Linked DNA regions of Homo sapiens: region 1 is linked to region 2. Evidence: fine-mapped expression QTL. Tissue or cell type: testis. Region 2 holds a variant in brackets; the other region holds the start of a gene. All regions are shown on one strand. Distances are between the middles of the regions.

Region 1 (4,199 bases), 81 kb after region 2:
CCACCTTAGGACAAGCACCTCCCTCAAGCTCCCTTCTTTAGTCAGATTCTACAGGATCTAGAAAATCCCTCCGCCTCGCTATACAGACAGCGTCCATTTACTGGGTCCAGGCGCCAGGCCAGTGCGTTATGTGCTCTCTCACTGACACCTCACAACAACCCTGTGGAAGAAGATTTATCATTACGTCATTCTACAGATGAAGAAACTGAGGCTCAAAGAGGCTAAGTGATTCATCCAAGTCACAGAGCCAGTTCGTGGCAGAGCAGGGATTCATACCAGGCCGGCCTGCCTCGAAGCCTGCGAAGTGGGGAGAATCACTGACAAAGACACAAAGTAAAGATCAGTCCCGCCTGTGCTTGGGGGGAATTCTCCCACTGTTGCTTGTGATGAGTCATGGAAAGCACAGGAAATTCTTGTACCCGCCACTCTTTCTGGAGGAGCAAAGATCTCCCAGAGATCATCAATGCCGAAGCCCACTGACACCCACACACCTCATCCCATGCTCCAACACACCACGTTCTGCGCTGCAGAGACCCCATACCCTGGAATTCATACTTTCCAATTGAGGAGATTAGGTCTGTATTCTTCGAACAGGGAAACTGAGGCGGATGGGAGGCAGGGCAGGAAGAATGATGCCTGGGCATCCATGACTAGGCTGAGACTACAGTTCATCTCTCTAACCTCTGAGTCCACGACCTGACCTATGCCCTGCATGGTGGCACCCACAGCCCAGAGAGGTTTAGGGCCATGTCCTTGGTCCACCAGCATGAAGGACCCATTTTCAACTAACAGCAAATACGAGGGCATCTTTGTTGTTTTAAAGATGGAAATTTTCCTCTCAACCCTTACTGGCCATGTCTGAGCTTGTGGGGCTGTATCAGGAGGGCTACTTCTGGGGCAAGCTGACGTCTTAGGCTCTCTGAGAAGGTCCCAGCACTCTCCATAAACTCCAAGAAGAGCACCTCACTTCCTGGGATGAAAACTCAAAATCCACTCCCGCCCAGACCAACCTCTGCTGCCTCTGGCAGAAGAAAAGACTGTTAGAGGAGGCAAAGAGAAAATGGGAGAGGGCATTTGTGAGGAGGGCGTGAGTCTTCTCTGAATCCTATTCAGAATTCCTGACCAGATGGGCACTGGCGAAGGGAACAGAGAACCGGTTGGCGGCCCACAGCTGTCGCCCATGTTATCCAGGAATCACTGGCAAAGGCACACACAGCTGCACAAACACAGGGACGACGGCCACTCCGGATGCTCTGCCGCCCTCGGGGTTTCAAGAGCTTGACAAGAAACAACAGTCACATTGTTACATTCAGACAGAATCACAAACTGACCGTTAGGGACAAGCTCACACCAACAGATGAGCACCAAATATGACTTGGTAAGGGCCCCACGGCGAGGTGCTGACACCCAGCACCCTCCTGTCCGCCCTGCCTGCACGGTGCCCTCACACCGGTCTCCCCAAAGGCCCGCGGCACCTCAGAGCAGCTCTGCCCACCCCATGGGCATGTTTCCGACGTCCAAACATACAGTTGTACTGTCACAACCATCCACTCACAAACTGTGACAGACACACAAACTGACGCCAAACTGTCCCACAAAGAAGCAAGGGGATGCCAACAGATGATCAAATGTAATTTAGTCAACCGCGGCGCACTCCCCCCCCCGCACCACACACACACATACACACGATGACACACATTCCTGTGTTCCCCTCGATGTAAGTGGCCTCGCCTCTCGCTGGGCCCCAGGTGCCCCTGCAGGAAATGCGGAGGCGCGGGGAGTCCAGGGAACGGGCTTGGGGTCTCAAGTTCGTGATCCCCACCCTCACCCCGGGCTCCAGCCCTGCGGCGCCGGCCCGCAGCGGACTCACCGGACGATGCCGAACATGACAAGCACGTTGCCCAGCAGCCCCACGGCGCACACGGCCGAGTAGAGCGCGGTGATGGCGATTGCCAGGGCGAGGGACGAGGCGCTCCGCGCGCCTGGCGGCCCCGACGCATTGGCGCCAGCGCTGGGGCAGGCGCTAGGGTAGGCGTCCGAGGCGTTGGCGAAGAGCGGGGGCTGCAGCTCGGCGCCGGCGGAGGGGGCCGGTTCCATGGCTGCCGGCCGGCTCCGCCGCGTCCCTCTCCACCGTGCGCCCTGGGCGCGGGGATCCGACGCGAGGGGAGCGGCAAGGCAGAGGCCGCGGCCCCGACGCCGCCGGCTGCCGCGCCCCGGCCGCCCCGCTGTCTCTGCGCCTCGTCCGCCTGCCTCGCCGCCCGCACCGGCCCAGCCCCCGGCGTCCGCCCGCTCTCCTCGCCCGGAGCGCTGTGAGCCAGGAGCAGCCGCAGGCTCCTCGGACGCGCCCGCCGCGCGCACCACGTGGCCCGGAGGCGGCCGCCAGTCTGCGCCCGCGACCGGGGGCGGACGCTGCACCACCGGCTCGGAGCTGGGCAGGGGAGGCCTCCCGCCCCCTCCCTAGGGATGCTCCGCCGGCTCGAGTGCGACCCCGTCCCAACCTGGACTCCCCTCCCACCCCCTTGCCACTTTGGTGTCAGAGGGACCTGGGTGTGGATCCCGCCTCCCGCCCCTGCACTAACAGGCGGAGTGACCTTGTGTAAGTCACTTAACCTCCCTCAGCTTCATTCTCTTTGTCTGTGAGATGAGGAAAATCGTACCACCTCCCTCAGAGGGTGGTTGGGGAGATTGAATAAAATGATTCGAACAAAGAGCTTAGAGCAGTGCCCTGCGGACAGTTACATGCTCCGTAAATAACCTATATTATCCGTGCCTTTCTTGCACCCCATTCATTCGCTCAACAAAAATTCTGAGGGTGCCTAATAGAAGAGCCGGGTATTTGGGGGGACCCTCTAGTACACAAAACCAGATGCAGCCTCTGCTTCCTGGGGCTTACAGCCCAGTGCAGGAGAGAGAGCGAGCAACCCTAAAATGACATTAAGATATAGGTACGAATTGAGAAAGTGGCAGGGTCTACAAAACCCAGGGGTCAGGACAGCTTCCCTGGGGAAACGACACTTGAGGTGAGGTGTGAAGTTTGGGGAAGAACTAACTTAAGGAAGTAACAAGGGAAGAGGATTCCGGATAAAGGAAGCAGAGGGACTGAAAGGAAGCCAGGAAGAGGAGAAGGCAGGAAGTGAGGGGGCGATGAGGTGGTGGGCAGGCTCTTGAAGACCACCTTAAGGAGCACTCTGGCTGCAGTGCGAGCAGATAGAAGGGGGGCACTTGGCTAAGTCATCCTTGCCACACCCCTTCCAAGACCTAACCATTCCAGATTAGAGCCATCCTTCTTCTTGGGGTGCCTAGCCTTTCCAGAACATTCTACCAAGCATTACTTTGCTCCAGGCACTGTGATAAGCACTTTATCCATGCACCAACACTTTGGTGTAGCTTCTATTATTATTGTCCCCATGTTACAGATTTAGTGCTCAGCACTAAATTATCCCATATAGTAATTATTTCTATCCGAACTGGTCTCCCTCCTTAAAGGGACCAGGTCTGATTGACCCCTGCATCCAGGAGAGGGCTGGGGTCACAGCAGGTGCTCAAGAAATACTTTTTGGATAATAAAGATCCCAAAGGGAACTGGAGTGGAACAATATTAGGGGTTCTGAGCTCTAGGCTCTGGGGCAATGCTCTTGGATCTGTGTGTGGCTGGACAAGGAGCTCTCCCTCATCTCACCCTCTAGCTTGAATCATCCATATATGTGCAAGGCTCCTACCCTTTCCCAGAAAAAAGCAAAGCCAGAATTCCCAAGCTCACCCTCTTCTCCATTTTCTCCACCCCACTTAGCTGCTGTCCAGCCACTTCTACCAACTACAGCAAGCCCCCCACCCCAGGGCTTTCCCACTCAACCACCTAAGGACTTATCAGAAAGATTTTTGCTGTGGTCACCTGCTGCCAAAACTCTCTCCCTTTCCCAAAGGGCCTGGTACTCAGAAACTTTTCTAGTGCCAGCAGAGAGAAATTGGGATAGGAAGAAGGAGGGCTACTTTATTGGAATTCTGGTCCCCTCCCTAACCCTCCAAGCCAAGTTTTTTCCTACCTCAGGACATTTGTACATGCTATTCCTTCCACTCGGAAGGCTGGGCCAATACCCCAGCCTAAGCGTTATTTACCCCTCAAATTTCAGCTTAAATATCACTTCCTTTGTGAAACCTTCCCTGATCCCCACCCCACCTCCAACTAGCCCAGCTCTCCT
Region 2 (4,199 bases):
TTTGGGCCCTGGAGTGAGCAGGCTTGGGTCTGAGCCCCAGCTGTACCCCTAAAGAACTGTGGGATTCTGGGTGACTCACTTGACTTACCCAGTGCCATGAAGCGGGGATAATAATGCCTGCTTCAGAGGGTCTCCTAGGTCACTAGGAGGAATGCATGAGATAATGTGTCTAAAATAGCATATAACCAGCCCAGCCCATAAGAAATAGCCAATAAATGGCAATAATACACATGATGACTAGTGAGTCCCAGGCTCCCTGGGCCACAGTGGGATGTAATTCTTCAGGGCCCTCCCTAGAGTCACCTCAGCCAGAGCCAAATAGCATTATGGATAATAATGCCTAATCCACCTATTTTCTAATTAAACAATTCTTCAAGGGAGGTGTCTTTTAATAACCCTACTTTACAGGTAAGGCAACCGAGGCAGAGAAGGGGTTACAGAACCAAGTCACACAGCGAGAGTGGCAGAGCTGGAACCTCCACTCAGCTCCTCCCACACCAGGCAGAGCCCAGCCCTTATCCCAGGGCCCTGGCCAGTCTGCTGGGAAGTTCAGGGGCTCCTTGGATTCCAGTCCCAGCTGGGTGAGCAGTTAAAAGTAGGAGAAAAAAGCCAGAAAGAGGAACACATAGTCCCCTCCCAGAATCCCAGAATGAGCCCAGGGCTGGGAAGTTACCAAATGGGGCCCTGTGTGGGCTCTTCTCATCAACTCCTTCCCACACCTATGCGGGGAAAGTGTTGTGATATGTACATCACAGATGAGGTCTCCAAGACTCAGGGAAGAGCATGCCTTGTCCAGGGTCACACCTGGACAAGGAAAAGTGGCAGTACTAGAAGGCAGAGTCCCTCCCCATCCCTCCCATTTCTGCCCCAGATCTTCCCAGCTGCCTCTCTCTTCTGATGAAAACTAGAGGCTCTGTCACTCCCTCTCCAGGAAGTCCAGTTGCCAGGCCCCTCTCTGTGCTGATTGATACATGCTTGGTACTTGGCCCCTTACTAAGTTCAGAAGACCCAGAGCTCACTTTACCAGAGCCCTGATCCCCAAGAAAGTCACAGTCTATTGAGCAAATAGGGAATTCACATTCACTGAGCCCCTATCATGCTGGGCCCTTTATATCCATTAGCCATTTAATCCAATACAAAGCACATTGATAGGTATACCATAAACAGTCAATAAATATCTTCATTCCTTTGGAAACATTCAGTGAGCACCTACTACGTGCTACTATACCCTAGGCGCTGAAGATACAGCACCTGGTGAACAGATGAACAAAAATCCCTGCCCTTGTGGGGCTTACATGAATAAAAGAACAAATATACTTGTGTCCCATAAGTATTCATATTCTTATTTTGCAGACGTGAAACTGAGATGCAAAGAATCACCCACCTGTATGCAACAGAAAAAGGATTCTATTCCAGCCCAGTCTGCCCCAAAGACCTTTGCATTGTATCATGTGACCAAAAAATCAGCACCCAGTGTGTTTAATTGGTAGGCCCTGCTTATGGTAGGATCCTAAAATCACAGAGTGCCCTCTCTCAGCATTTCCACCCCTACCCCCGGGCCTCTCTTTACGCCTCCCAGTGGCCTCAGAGCCACAGGACATGCATTAAAATCAGCTCATGTGGCAGTCATTAAGTCAAACCATTACTCACCCAGAAGCAGCCGTCGGGGTCACGCAGCCAGTCCAGGAGAGGCCATGGAGCCATCACCGCAGTGGCACATGGAAGCAAATGACAGCAGTGAGACACACAGCACAGCCAAAGAAAAAGCCCTTTGGGTCCCCTTCTTCAGCCAGGGCCTGAGCCAGGAGGGAACCCTGCCCTCCCTCTGCCTCTGGGGTCTTGCTGGGGCAGACGCCCTAGTCAGCAATAATCTGATAATCCACCCTCAGCTCATCAGGCCTCCAGGGCCCAGCCCACTAGAGGCAGCAGCGTCCCTGTGAACAAACATTAACTGAGCACCTGCTGTGTGCCAGGTGTTGGGGATACAGCCTGAAGAAGACAGACATGGCCCCTGTACTTATGGAGCTTACAATGCAGTGAGGAGACAATCATGTAAATAACTACTGAATTACAACTGTGATGATTGTGTCAAGGAGGAGACTTTAAGAACCTGGGCCAGCCGGGCACGGTGCCTCACACCTATAATCCCAGCACTTTGGGAGGCTGAGGTGGGAGTTTTGCTTGAGCTCAGGAGTTCAAGACCAGCCTAGGCAACATGGGGAAACCCCATCTCTACAAAAAATA[T/C]GAAAATTAGGTGTGTGTGGTGGAGTCCCACCTACTCAGGAGGCTTAGGTAGGAGGCTCCCTTGAGCCCAGGAGGTCAAGGCTGAAGTGAGCCGTGATCACCCCATTGTACTCTAACCTGGGCGACAGAGTGAGACCCTATCTCAGAATAAAAGAACCTGACACTTGTAATCCCAGCACTTTGGGAGGCCGAGGCAGGCAAATCACTTGAAGCCAGGAGTTTGAGACCAGCCTGGCCAACATGGTGAAACTCCGTCTCTCCAAAAATACAAAATTAGCCTGGCATGGTGGTGGGTGCCTATAATCCCAGCTACTCAGGAGGCTAAGGCACAAGAATTGCTTGAACCTGGGAGGCAGAGGTTGCAGTGAGCCAAGATCGCACCACTACACTCCAGCCTGGACAACAGAGTAAGATTCTGTCTCAAAAAAAAAAAAAAAAAAAAAAAAGAACCTGGGAAAATCCTGACTTCACTATTTATGGCTCTACCTTTTGTGACATTGGGGCCATTTGTTTTGTTTTGTTTTGTTTATTTGTTTGTTTGTTTGAGACAGAGTTTCCCTCTTGTTGCCCAGGCTGGAGTGCAATGGCGCAACCTCCGCCTCCTTGGTTCAAGCGATTCTCCTGTCTCAGCCTCCCAAGTAGCTGGGATTATAGGCGCATGCCACCGTGTATTTTTGTATTTTTAGTAGAGATGGGGTTTCATCGTATTAGTCAGGCTGGTCTCAAACTCCTGACCTCAGGTGATCTACCCACCTCAGCCTCCCAAAGTGCTGGGATTATAGGCTTGAGCCACCACGCCTGGCCTCGTTTTTACTTGTCTATGCCTCATTTATTCATCTGCAAACTGGAGATAATATTAGTATCCACCTCACAGGGTTGATGTGAGGATTAACATGGGTCAATACATGTAACACGTCTGGAAGGATGCTTGGCACACAGTAAACCATTCAGAAGCGTTTGCTACTATCATTACAGGGGCTGTTGGCATGGGTTTTGGAGGGACCCAGCATGGGTGAGGGGTACCACCTACCTGACAAAGTTGCTGTAGGGGGTTAATGATACAATGAGAGGTGAAGTTGAGTACAATGCCTGGTACCGGCAACTGTGCAATAAATGGTGGTGTTATTCTTTTTTTTTTTTTTTTTTTTTTGAGATGCAGTCTTGTTCTTATTGCCCAGGCTGGAGTGCAGTGGCACGATCTTGGCTCACTGCAACCTCCGCCTCCTCGGTTCAAGTGATTCTCCTGCCTCAGCATCCCGAGTAGCTGGGATTATAGACGCCTGCCACCAACCATGCCCAGCTAATTTTTTGTATTTTTAGTAGAGACGGGGTTTCACCGTGTTAGCCAGGCTGTGTCGAACTCCTGATCTCAGGTGACCCGCCCACCTTGGCCTCCCAAAATGCTGGGATTACAGGTGTGAGCCACCATGCCCGGCCGGTGGTGTTATTCTTAGGGCTTCTCTCCAGCACAACTCCTGGATAAAGCATCTCAACAGAGGAGCTGTCAGAAATGCTCCCACCACCACAAACACAAACCCGGAACTGCAGCTTTGGACTGAAAAATGACCAGCAACCACATTCTCACCTGATTTTACAAATGCCTCATCTCCTTTAACCTTCACAACAACCCAGGAAGTGGACAAAGGAGAAATTGTTACTATTCCCACTTTAAAGATGAGGACAGTTAGGTGAAGGGACTCTCGTGTGTCCTCAGGGGTGCCACTTCACACCTCCAAGCCTAGTTAAGTGGCCAACCCAGGATTCTAGCTCATATCTGCCTGGATTTTGTTCTCCGGGTTTTCCCTTGGTTTATTTCCCTTCAGTCTCTGGGGTACTGGCTGAACAGCCCCAGACAAGCCTTTGAACCTCTCCAACCTCAGTCTCTTCCTCTGAAATAGCTATCAAACAGCTGGCCCAGGATCCAAGATGTTCCTGACCCAAACTCTTCCTTCACA

Alleles and levels. Alleles are on the strand shown, and positions count from the first base shown. SD is a standard deviation of normalised expression in the study named.
For the expression in testis of the gene that starts at base 2,311 in region 1, C is the low allele of the variant in region 2 and T is the other (small effect, 0.37 SD a copy in GTEx).

What was found. PIP is the estimated chance that this variant, and not a neighbour inherited with it, causes the effect.
Region 1: it holds the start of OPRD1, and the variant in region 2 is the best candidate, but not a certain one, in a credible set for the expression of OPRD1 in testis (GTEx, PIP 0.61).

The regions. Positions count from the first base shown.
Region 1 is chr1:28,810,282-28,814,480 of GRCh38, reverse strand. OPRD1 (opioid receptor delta 1) reads right to left here and starts at 2,311. Exons shown (of 3, transcript NM_000911.4): 1 at 1,871-2,311. The coding sequence starts at 2,097.
Region 2 is chr1:28,891,289-28,895,487 of GRCh38, reverse strand. It overlaps a transcript of EPB41 not described here. Among named protein-coding and RNA genes, the nearest start is that of EPB41, 21 kb to the left of the region's middle. The variant T/C (reference allele first, on the strand shown) is at 2,245.